Homo sapiens: one gene and its partners. The protein of the gene in region 1 purifies or fractionates together with the protein of each later gene. This does not show direct contact. Each region holds a gene or a part of one and is shown in the gene's direction. Other genes may lie near its edges.

The links.
Region 2: the proteins of TEX13A (region 1) and ASPM purify together in Homo sapiens (affinity purification with mass spectrometry; 2 studies listed by BioGRID and IntAct, with this or other methods). This does not show direct contact.
Region 3: the proteins of TEX13A (region 1) and CNOT9 purify together in Homo sapiens (affinity purification with mass spectrometry; 2 studies listed by BioGRID and IntAct, with this or other methods). This does not show direct contact.
Region 4: the proteins of TEX13A (region 1) and BTG3 purify together in Homo sapiens (affinity purification with mass spectrometry; 2 studies listed by BioGRID and IntAct, with this or other methods). This does not show direct contact.

What each region holds. Positions count from the first base shown.
Region 1 is NC_000023.11:105,218,429-105,222,096, reverse strand, and holds TEX13A (testis-expressed protein 13A), read left to right. Parts: upstream 1-1,402; 5' UTR 1,403-1,502; intron 1,503-1,667; 5' UTR 1,668-1,699; coding exon 1,700-2,134; intron 2,135-2,338; coding exon 2,339-3,133; 3' UTR 3,134-3,168; downstream 3,169-3,668. UniProt on the Homo sapiens protein: Binds to ssRNA containing the consensus sequence 5'-AGGUAA-3'. Plays a role in transcriptional repression. Required for rapid sperm motility and timely degradation of mRNA via its interaction with CNOT1.
Region 2 is NC_000001.11:197,098,170-197,101,669, reverse strand, and holds part of ASPM (abnormal spindle-like microcephaly-associated protein), read left to right. Parts: coding exon 1-1,239; intron 1,240-3,500. UniProt on the Homo sapiens protein: Involved in mitotic spindle regulation and coordination of mitotic processes.
Region 3 is NC_000002.12:218,595,210-218,597,580, forward strand, and holds the end of CNOT9 (CCR4-NOT transcription complex subunit 9), read left to right. Parts: 3' UTR 1-1,871; downstream 1,872-2,371. UniProt on the Homo sapiens protein: Component of the CCR4-NOT complex which is one of the major cellular mRNA deadenylases and is linked to various cellular processes including bulk mRNA degradation, miRNA-mediated repression, translational repression during translational initiation and general transcription regulation.
Region 4 is NC_000021.9:17,593,153-17,595,901, reverse strand, and holds the end of BTG3 (protein BTG3), read left to right. Parts: intron 1-1,569; coding exon 1,570-1,809; 3' UTR 1,810-2,249; downstream 2,250-2,749. UniProt on the Homo sapiens protein: Overexpression impairs serum-induced cell cycle progression from the G0/G1 to S phase.

The sequences.
Region 1 (3,668 bases):
TAATGTCAGGACAAGGAGTGTGCCACAAGGATCCATCAAATGATTTTAAGCTTAAGAGAAACATGATCATAGGAAAGATTAGGAAGTGATTAGGGATTATGAAGAAATTAAAGACAGGAAGATTATTTGAGAAGAAACATGGACATTCCCTAAGTGGGCATGGATGTCTTAGAAGTTTCTGAGGTCACAGCAACAAGATTTTGTCTCTTAGTTGACTTGTTTTTAAGGGTCGGTATGAAGGGTAGGTAACTTAAAAATTTGATTTTGAGGTTTCTGTATTGGACAACATAGGAATTTAGGAGGGGAATCATCTCCTGCATATATTAAAATAAGCAAGAGGCCATTAGTTTGAAGCTGTTTCCATACTTTGAGTTCCTATCTAACAAACCGCAAACTAACTTAGCATGTAAACAGACTGAAACTTAACATAAGCTGTATAAAAGACAGCCTAATTTCAGCCAAACACAACTAGCCAGGCTCCAGCTAATTACAGGCAGTCAAGTGACAAGACCATGTCCAAATAAGGCAAATGCCTTGCTGTAGCCAATCAGGTGATTTTTCTCTTTTGTGTCCAAACTCAGCCTATAAAAATTCACTTCTCATGTTGCTGGGAATAGCTCTCTGAAACTCTTCTGGTTCTGAGTACTGACAAATTCATGACTCGTTTTTCTTTTTTTTTTTTTTTGGTTGTTGTTTATGTGTAAACAAACTGTTAACGTTGTCTAACGTTTTTCTTTTAACAGGGAAAAGGGGGAGTCATATCATGAACATTCTGATTGTATGTGTCTGTAGGACATGTATGAAATGTGAATCTAGATTGGGAGTTTGACATCTACAGGCCAAATCATGCCAACTGCCTGGTTTTATAAATGAACTTTTATTAGAACATGGCCATGGTCATTTCTTCAGGTATTATTTATGGCTGCTTTTGTGCTACAAGTAGTTGGGATAATCTTTTGCCCACAAAGCCTCAAATGCCTGCTATCTTGCCCGTTTCAGAAAAAGGTCACTAACCTGTATACTAGGATTTAGGAGTCTGGAAAATGAACTGCAGAATTTTCATGGGTTGGGGGCTTTTTCGTGTTCTAGAACATACCCATTATTCCCCCTTCAACCTCTAGGGGGGTCCCTACTAGCCGTTGGCATGGGACAAACCATTGTCAAGAGGGAGGGATACATGGGACTTTTTTGACTTGATTATAAGGGCTTAATTTTCTTGGTTCTAAGTCTTTTCTGACCACTCCTGTTTCTTCCGACCTTTAAGGGCTCCCAACCATGTGACAGGTTCCCTTAAATCCCAATGGAGTGGCAGGGGCCTTCCTCACTCACTCCCTTCCACTCCTGGTATCTCTGGAAATTGGAACAGTCCCAGAGTAAAAGCCGACGTTGGCCCTGAGTCTTCCTTTCCCTGGAACCTTAGGAGGGAGAGAGATCTTCCTCTCTCTTCGGGCGTGTTAAGACAGCGGGGTTGGCCTGTACTTCCTCTGGCCCTGGCTGAAGAGGTGAGGCCTGGTGGGAGGTGTCCTAGGGTAGGACAAGCCGGTCAGGGGGTCATTAGGACGGTCTTGTCAGAGCGGGTAGGGCGGGGACAAGAGGGCGGGAGAAGATGGATGAGGGGAGGGGCTAAGGGGGAGGAAAGGAACCTATTGGCTGCTCCATCCACACAGGGCTAGTGAAACCGTTAAACCCCTAGGCGATCATGGCCTTGAGACCTGAGGACCCCAGTAGCGGGTTCCGGCATAGCAACGTGGTGGCCTTCATCAACGAGAAAATGGCCAGGCACACGAAAGGCCCCGAGTTCTATCTTGAGAATATATCCTTATCCTGGGAGAAGGTGGAAGACAAGCTGAGGGCCATACTGGAGGACAGCGAGGTGCCCAGTGAGGTCAAAGAGGCCTGCACCTGGGGCAGCCTGGCCTTGGGAGTGCGCTTTGCCCACAGGCAGGCACAGCTACAAAGGCACAGGGTGCGGTGGCTGCACGGCTTCGCCAAACTGCACAAATCAGCCGCACAGGCCTTGGCATCAGACCTGAAGAAGCTCAGGGAGCAGCAGGAGACGGAACGCAAGGAGGCGGCCTCCCGGCTAAGAATGGCCCAGACCAGCCTCGTGGAGGTGCAGAAAGAGAGAGACAAGGTGAGTTGGAAGCCGCTCCATGCAGTAAGATCCCTCAACTGGTCCCTGCCCAGTACCACTGCCCTGCCCCATTCCCACCCCTCTCCACCCTGCTCCATGGCTTCGCCCTGCCCCGCCCTTCCCACCTGGTAGCTCCGTCCTACCCTGCTTAGTGCTCCCGCCTTGCCCCCAGAACACACCTCAGCCCTGCCCACTTCTCTCCAGGAGCTGGTGTCTCCCCATGAGTGGGAGCAGGGGGCAGGGTGGCCAGGCCTGGCCACTGCCGGAGGGGTTTGCACAGAAGGAGCAGCTGAGGAGGAAGAAGAGGCGGCGGTGGCTGCTGCTGGTGCTGCTGGAGGAAAAGGAGCAGAAGAAGAGCAGAGGGATGTGGAGGTTGTGGCTGCCCCTGTGGAGGCCATGGCTCCCCCTGTGGAGGCTGGGGCTGCCCCCATGGAGACCCAGTTCCCCCACGTGGAGGCCAGGGCTGCCTCCATGGAGACCACAGAGAAGCTGGAGAGAATCCTCCTGCAGCTCCTTGGAGATGCTGATCAGGAAAAGTACACCTATTGGGGGCAGAAGGAGGGAGATCTCCGGTCGGTCGAAACAGCCACATCTTATTTCTCTGGAACCACGAACCCCTGGTCCAGAGCCTCATCAGAACCTCTTCCTGTCCAGCTCCCTGCCTCATACTCATACTCATACTCAAGCCCTTTTTCCTCCTTCTCAGACATACCCACTATATCCCCTCCACAAGCAACAGTCACAGCACCAGTTCCGCCTCAGCTGCCTTCCGACTGGGAGGCCTTTGATACTAGCCTGTGGTCTGATGGGGGGCCCCACAGAATAGACCATCAGGAGCACCCAAGAGACAGGAGATACTCCGAACCTCATCAGCAAAGACCTCCAGTATATCGCAGGCCAGGGGACTGGGACTGCCCTTGGTGTAACGCTGTGAATTTTTCACGGAGGGATACTTGCTTCGACTGTGGGAAGGGAATCTGGCTGCAAAAACCTCATTGAGTGCAGAAATGCAAAATAGAACCGAAGCATGTATATCTCGATGGCGAATTAATTTTCAGAGGGCAGGCTTGTGGTGGCGGGGGCCGGGGTGGTAGGGGAAGAAGGCTGGGAAGAGTGGGGGAAGGAGGTGAGACAATGGTACCTTTACGAATAACTTCAGAGATAGGGGTGGTGACTGGAGGAGGGGGAGGAAAGTAGGGGTTGTGAAAGAGGTGTAGAAGTGGGGTGGTGGCCAGGGGAGGTATAGATTGGGGTGGGGAGAGAGAGACACATGGAGACAGACATGTTTTGGTGACCCCCTTTGTATTCCAGAGCACTTGCACTCAATACCCCAGAAGTGCTGCAGCTTTTATTTGTGTATGTCTCGCTCGCTCTCTCCCTGCCCTAGTGTCTGGTAAAAGAGGCAACCATGTGTATAACACCCCACCCTCTACTCGCATCTAGGCCTTAGATGATTGGAGCAGGAGTGGATATTTGGCCCATCCAGAGCCAAATGGATTTTTCATGCTAGACACTCTGAACAGAGAGGCCGATT
Region 2 (3,500 bases), on another chromosome or scaffold:
ATCAGACAATGGCATTCTGCTGTGGTTATTCAGGCTGCATATAAAGGAATGAAAGCAAGACAACTTTTAAGGGAAAAACACAAAGCTTCTATCGTAATACAAAGCACCTACAGAATGTATAGGCAGTATTGTTTCTACCAAAAGCTTCAGTGGGCTACAAAAATCATACAAGAAAAATATAGAGCAAATAAAAAGAAACAGAAAGTATTTCAACACAATGAACTTAAGAAAGAGACTTGTGTTCAGGCAGGTTTTCAGGACATGAACATAAAAAAACAGATTCAGGAACAGCACCAGGCTGCCATTATTATTCAGAAGCATTGTAAAGCCTTTAAAATAAGGAAGCATTATCTCCACCTTAGAGCAACAGTAGTTTCTATTCAAAGAAGATACAGAAAACTAACTGCAGTGCGTACCCAAGCAGTTATTTGTATACAGTCTTATTACAGAGGCTTTAAAGTACGAAAGGATATTCAAAATATGCACCGGGCTGCCACACTAATTCAGTCATTCTATCGAATGCACAGGGCCAAAGTTGATTATGAAACAAAGAAAACTGCAATTGTGGTTATACAGAATTATTATAGGTTGTATGTTAGAGTAAAAACAGAAAGAAAAAACTTTTTAGCAGTTCAGAAATCTGTACGAACTATTCAGGCTGCTTTTAGAGGCATGAAAGTTAGACAAAAATTGAAAAATGTATCAGAGGAAAAGATGGCAGCCATTGTTAACCAATCTGCACTCTGCTGTTACAGAAGTAAAACTCAGTATGAAGCTGTTCAAAGTGAAGGTGTTATGATTCAAGAGTGGTATAAAGCTTCTGGCCTTGCTTGTTCACAGGAAGCAGAGTATCATTCTCAAAGTAGGGCTGCAGTAACAATTCAAAAAGCTTTTTGTAGAATGGTCACAAGAAAACTGGAAACACAGAAATGTGCTGCCCTACGGATTCAGTTCTTCCTTCAGATGGCTGTGTATCGGAGAAGATTTGTTCAGCAGAAAAGAGCTGCTATCACTTTACAGCATTATTTTAGGACGTGGCAAACCAGAAAACAGTTTTTACTATATAGAAAAGCAGCAGTGGTTTTACAAAATCACTACAGAGCATTTCTGTCTGCAAAACATCAAAGACAAGTCTATTTACAGATCAGAAGCAGTGTTATCATTATTCAAGCTAGAAGTAAAGGATTTATACAGAAACGGAAGTTTCAGGAAATTAAAAATAGCACCATAAAAATTCAGGTATTTCTATATTTAATTTAAATATAAAACTGTGAGTCTTTCTTTTGACCAATATTTGTTAGAATGTATAAAATGAGCTTAAGCAGGTCATAAAGAATAGTACTTAGTTGAGGTGACCATTTATCTTCCAAAGTGGAACATTTTTGAAAGAGGGAAAGGGCACTAGTAAGTCAGCCAAGACAGCACAGAACGGGGATTGTTCTGGCCATGGTCACCCTATGTGTGGTGCATTTCAGTATGGGTTAATTGTAGCACTCTTAGAAGAATTTTGAGAAAATAGGAGTCCTGTATTTGGCAAAGTTATTTCTTTAAGTGGAAAATATAAGCTAAGATAAAGTATTATTTGGCATAATATAGGCAAAATAGAGTAACTTTGTTCCTCTAATAATCTATTAACCAGAGCTGTTTGCTGCTTAGGCTAGTAGACATACTTTATTCTGAGTGTTTAGTACTTTGGCTTCCAAATCAATTTTGTATTATTTTGTTTTGTCTATTTGCCAAATGTGTGAGGAATGTACAGTATTATCTCTTTTAAAATATGAAGGAAGTGATAAAGTTTAAGTAATTTGGCCAATGTTGCATAGAGAGAGGCAGATCCAGGAACTGAATCTAAGTACTTCAGCTATTTCTTTTTACCTGCAATAACCCAGGCTTTAACCCAGATGTGATATGTTCATATCTTACTGGATTACTGTTAAATTTAGAAATAATGTTTTAATTCAAGAAATGTCAAGTGCTAGAAATGTGCCAAATGCTGTAGTGGGTGTTATAAATAGACAATGAGTAAGATATACTTAGTTGCTGTCCTCAAGGAACTTAATTGAACAAGGAAGTATAATTATAATACAACATGAGAAGTGTATGTTTCAGGAAACACAGAATGGGAAATCAAGCTAGTCTCCATGGTCAGAGACTTCCCAGAGTGAGTAACATTTAAGTTGAAATGTTACACTGAAGTATGAATTAGAAATAGCCCAGTAAAAGGTATAGAAGAATATTCCAATTGCAAGAGATAACGTGGAAAAATCAAAAAACTAGAAACAATAAAAAGTGATATGGGACCAGGTTGGCAATAGAGGGAGTAAGATTGTGGATAGATTTTTAAGACAGAAAAAATTTAGTCTTTATGCTCCAGACAAAACAAATTCTAGAGGAGTTTAAGCAGGAGAAGACCACAGTCATTTTTATTAAAAAAAAAAAAAAAATTACTCTGGCAGGAATGTGGAAGATGGACTGGAAAAGGAGCAAGACTAGAATCAGGTAGACCAAATGAAAATAGGCAGTAAGCCAGGTGAGAAAGAGTTATAGTTCAGTGTAGGTTTGTGACAATGGGATTGTAAGTTGGCATTATATAGAGCATGAACAAGGAGGCAAGCCATGTTGATGGCTTAAGTAACTCAGCAGAGTTACTCCCTCACACCCTGACATAGGGAATAAAGAGGGAAGAGCAGGTTTTGAGATTGATGATGAATTCAGTTTGGAGTATATAAGATCTGAAGTACCTAGCAGGTAACCCCCTTGAAATATCTAGTAAGGCAGTTGACTATGTTTGTCTGGAGTTCAGGAGAGTAGTGTGAGTATTAGAATTTGATTTGTACATTATGGGCATATGCTAATAATTAAAGTTCTGGGAATAATGAGATCACCAAGGAACAATACATAAAATGAGTGAACAAAGAGGGCCTGGGACTTGAGCCCTGAAGAACATCAAAATTCACAGACATTGACAAGAGAAGCCAACAAGGTGTTAAGAGGGAAAGAAGAAAGGTAAGAGATTAATGGTATCAAGAAACCAAGGTGTTAAGAGGGAAAGAAGAAAGGTAAGAGATTATGGTATCAAATTCCTAACACTACTGAGAAGTTCACAATTGAAAGGTGTTCATTGGATGTATTAGTTATGGTTTTATTCACTTAAAATGATTAAATAGCCAAAATAACAATCTTATAAAAATTTTTTTCTCTTACATAATTACATAATAAAATTGTATTTTACACATATAATTTTTAGCCTATGCCAGTGGTCTAAAACTTTACTGCATATTGGAGTCACCTGGAATTTTAAAACATACTCCTACCTTTAGATATTCTAATTGGTATGGGAAGCAACACAAGCGTGGGATTTGTTTCAAAGCTCCCAGGTGACTCTAATGAGCAGCGAAGTTTGGGAGCCACTGGGATATAGTATACATTACTAAATACTTACATATATATGTAAATATGTATGTTTTATATATATATATATATCAACTTCTCTGTAGCAT
Region 3 (2,371 bases), on another chromosome or scaffold:
TCAAAGATATTTTCTCAATAACTCTAAAAGGGAGGTGCTTGGGATTAAGGTGACAGTCCACTTGATCCTTTTCTTTGTTTTAGTGTGAATTTCAGCAGCTCCATCTGTCTTCATGATTGTACTTGAGCAGTATTAGCTGTATGAGTTAATTTTATTCAGATTGAAGATGGAGGGCTGGGTTCTGCTCACTCAGTCTTTTTTTTTTTTTTTTTTTTTTTTTTTTGACCATTCTCTTTTAGTCTATGGGAATTACAGGGTTGCCGCTAAAATATTCACTTGTTCATATCGTGTCAGAGATTTCCTCTTCTCTGGAGCTTAGGTGGCTCTTCACAATCCATAGGCTTGAATCTGCAACCTAGTGTAAACTGCCTTGCTTTCCCCGGTTCTTTCCCCTGCTAGCACCTGCTTTCTCATCCCTATCTCCAGTCAAAGATGGGATTGCTTAATCCAACTCTGGAGAGGGACCAAGTCTTTTCTGCCCACATCTCACACAATTGAGGTGTCTGAACAAGCTTGGGGAGGGTCTATAAGGGGTAGGCTCAAAAAAAAAAAAACCCATTTGCAGAGGCAGTTTTGCCAACACAAGGGCTCTTTCAAGCCGACTTTCACAAAGAGAGCCGGACTTGTTAGTTGGCTTCTGTCTCTTTAGAGCCAAGAAAATAGTAATTAAGTGGCCTAGATATAGGAAGGGCAGAATAAGCACTTACTCCCCCTGCCTTCCAAGATGAAGAGGAGAAGCAGGCCAACCCTCAATAATTGCAAGCCTGAAGAGAAGTGATCTTAGAGAAAGCAGAGAACAGAATGGACTGGATAGACATCTTGACTCTATTCAGCCCGTAGTCTGTGATCTGGAGAGTCCAGTTAAGGTAACCCAGATTTTTGACAACCGCCTTCCTGCTGAGCCAAAGTTTTCTCATTACCCCTCCACTGGGGAAGCAGCTGAGGCCCAGGGCCTTGCTCCCTGGGAAATTCTCTTCTCTCCATCTTTCGGTGCATTGGCCATGTTACTGTGCCAAAGTGTCTTAATTCTTGTCCCATCTATTCTCAGCTGGCCTTGGAACCCACATAGGAGTTGGTGGGGGAGGGATGGAATGGGTATTATTCATTGTAGTTGATCCTGGTGTGTGTATTATATAAAGAGACCCCTCCCCTTATTTTGTGTTTTCCATCCCTCTCCCTTAACAGGATTGAAATAAAACATGCTTCTGTTTTTGTAAAAATAATTTTTCCTTTACACTGGAGATTTTATTCTATCAGTATATGGGTAACTAGGCACTTTGGTCAGGTGATCCTTGTCATGCCTGCTTCTCCCCTCTGTCTACCTACACAACACACACACACACACACACACAGCCCTGCTAAGATGGCAGTAGTGGTTCTTTTGTGAACATGTTTTTTGGGGAGACTCCATCTGAGGTACAAAAGCTGTTTGGGAGGCTGGGAGGGGGATGATGCCCCTTACCTGATAAAAGTATGTTTTACTGGGACAGAACTTCACTCCTGGCCATATTGGCCAGAACTTAGTGCCAGTGTAGGGAGAGACTTCCATAGTGACAAGGTAATGCTTGAAACATCTTACGAACTTTGATGTTCATTTCCTCAAGTTCAAGGCTTGGAGCACATCTCCAGGATTGTTTCCATGCCTGGCTGTCAGTGGGACACAGCTGCCCTATGCTTCCACGTTCTTTTTTCAAGAGCCTTAGAGGGCCTGTGGCCTGTTTCACTGGTGGAACAGGAGCAGCATTGGTAGCCTTCAGAGCATGCCTTGCTTACTAACTACATATTATTCCTCTGCTCATTGTTCCTGCTGCTTAAAGGCTAGGAAAAGGGGGATATACAAAGTTGTTGCTTTCAAAAACTCAGAGAAAAAATTTGGAATAGGAAACCTTAGAATGAAATTATATTTTTCTTTCCTGATACATTATGGAATTTAATTTTTGGAAAAATATTTTCATATGTTTATTTCAAAAGCAGATATAACAAATAGAAAATTTGTTGGTTTGTTTTGTTTTGTTTTTGGGAATTGGAGTTTCGGTCTTGTTTCCCAAGCTGGAGTGCAGTGGCATAATCTCAGCTCACTGCAACATCTGCCTCACAGGTTTAAGCAATTCTCCTGCCTCAGCCTCCTGGGTATCTGGGATTACAGCCGCCCGCTGCCACATCCTGCTAATTTTTGTATTTTTAGTAGAGACGGGGTTTCGCCGTGTTGGCCAGGCTGGTCTCGAACTCCTGGCCTAAGGTGATCCGCCAGCCTCAGCCTCCCAAAGTGCTGGGATTACAGGCATGAGCCACTGTGCCTGGCCAACAAGCAGAAAATTTGAATAACAATTAACATACCTGGCTTAAATGACATTCATAGAACACTGCACTC
Region 4 (2,749 bases), on another chromosome or scaffold:
CTTGCTAGTCATGTAAAATAGTACCACTACTTTGGAAAACTGGAACTTTTTAACGTTAAATGTGTAACTCTTCTATTACTCAGCAGTTCCACTCCTAAGTATTAAATATTTACCAAAAGAAACGAAAATATGCCTATAAAGCCTTCTATTAGAATTAACTGTGCTGTTATTCATTGCAGCATTGTTTTGTTCGTTGTGTATCATTGTTTTTTTAATAGTAAGAGACTGAAAACAGCCTCAATGTCCCATTACTAGGAGACCATTTAATTTATAGTCATTGCTATACTATCTAGCTGTAGAAAAATGAGAAGGATCTTTATGTATTGATATGTTTCTGAAATGTATTATTATGAAATGTAAAAAGCAGGATACAATCCAGTATACATATATATTTTTAAAGTGTGTATAGATGTGGATAGAATATCTCTAAAGGTATATTTAAAAAAATGTTTGGTGTCAGTTGCCCTTGAGAAGGGTTAAGATAAAGAAGATAAAGGGTGAGATAAAAAAAGAGGGACTTTCCACAGTTTACCCTTTTGTACTTTTTGAATTTTCTATCATGAATGCAATGCTATACACAATATAATTTTTTTAAAAAAATCCTATACTTAGAAATGCAGATTTGAGATCAGCAAAATCAGAAATTTAAGAAGATGTGGCATTCTAAGCAGAGAGGTCTAAAACTGCTGATAAGAACACTTTGAATAATGTGAACCTGACGTGCCCACCTGATTTATGGGATAATCTAAAACTATTATTCCCAAATACTAAACTGGCTACATCAGAATCACCTGGGGAGCTTTGTCAAAATACCTGGCCTCTAGTTCTGAGATTTTATTATTGTTCATTAGACCAGTGCTAGGGCATGAATGTTTTGTGTTTATCTTTTTTTTTTTTTAACTTTTATTTTAGGTTTAGGGATACACATGAAGGTTTGTTCCATAGGTAAACATGTGTCACAGGGATTTGTTGTACATATTATTTCATCACCCAGGTGTGAAGCCCAGTACTCAATAGTTATCTTTTCTGCTCCTTTTCCTTCTCCCACCCTCCCCTCTCAAATAGACTCCAATGTCTATTGTTTCCTTCTTTGTGTTCATAAGTTCTTATCATTACCTCCCACTTATAAGTGAGAACATGCGGTAGTTGATTTTCTGTTTCTGCATTAGTTTGCTAAGGATAATGGCCTCCAGCTCCAATGTTTTGTATTTAAAAGCCTCCAAGTGACTCCTGGCTTAGCCAGCTGTGGAAACCACTGGACTAAAACAAGCATGTCCTTACAAGCTTCCATTCGTTCCATGTTTTGGTCTTTTTTGGTTGAAGTTGTTTAGGAAGTACTGTGTTTGAGTTTATTCATTTCTTTATGCATTCAGAAAACATTGGTCACCTGTTATACATTATACGCCTATTACACATGAGGTTTTTAATGTATTTAGACCTGACAATAGGAGTGTCACTTAGATGTGATCTCAGTGTTGTGGGTAACTTTGTTTGTCTTTAATGAGAAATCTGGAACATAGATGATGATTTTTTCCTTTGAATTAACTTAATGTGTTCTCTTCCCTACAGATTTCAGAACTTATATTTCCACCTCTTCCAATGTGGCACCCTTTGCCCAGAAAAAAGCCAGGAATGTATCGAGGGAATGGCCATCAGAATCACTATCCTCCTCCTGTTCCATTTGGTTATCCAAATCAGGGAAGAAAAAATAAACCATATCGCCCAATTCCAGTGACATGGGTACCTCCTCCTGGAATGCATTGTGACCGGAATCACTGGATTAATCCTCACATGTTAGCACCTCACTAACTTCGTTTTTGATTGTGTTGGTGTCATGTTGAGAAAAAGGTAGAATAAACCTTACTACACATTAAAAGTTAAAAGTTCTTACTAATAGTAGTGAAGTTAGATGGGCCAAACCATCAAACTTATTTTTATAGAAGTTATTGAGAATAATCTTTCTTAAAAAATATATGCACTTTAGATATTGATATAGTTTGAGAAATTTTATTAAAGTTAGTCAAGTGCCTAAGTTTTTAATATTGGACTTGAGTATTTATATATTGTGCATCAACTCTGTTGGATACGAGAACACTGTAGAAGTGGACGATTTGTTCTAGCACCTTTGAGAATTTACTTTATGGAGCGTATGTAAGTTATTTATATACAAGGAAATCTATTTTATGTCGTTGTTTAAGAGAATTGTGTGAAATCATGTAGTTGCAAATAAAAAATAGTTTGAGGCATGACAACGCGTGTTTCTGTTGTGTGCATAAAAGGGGAAAAGAACGGGTATTTCCCTTCAATGTATTTAACTAAATAGCAAAAACATTAAACAGAACGTAAGAATTTTAAAATTTCCTTTGAAAAATCAACTATTAACCATACTTTTCCTAAAAGACCACATATCAGAATATGCATATGAAAAGTTAAAAATTTGTTAGTGGTAGTTATTGAAAATATAATAAAACATCTTTTAACTATCAGTGTCACTATACATAGGGTTTTTTAACAAAGAATTTGGCTCGTACTAATTTTGACATGACATCTGACTTACATGTCTAATGCCATTGCATAAAGTAGATGTGTTCTTACAGCTGCTCTAATCTCTGTGCCTTGTGCTTTTTTTAAAAAACATTTAAGTCTTTACTAGAGGCCTAAAATAAAGTCAAATAATACAATACTTCAGATTCTTCAGTAGTCCATATTTATACAACTGTAATTCCATCAGTCTTGTAAGGGTACTTGA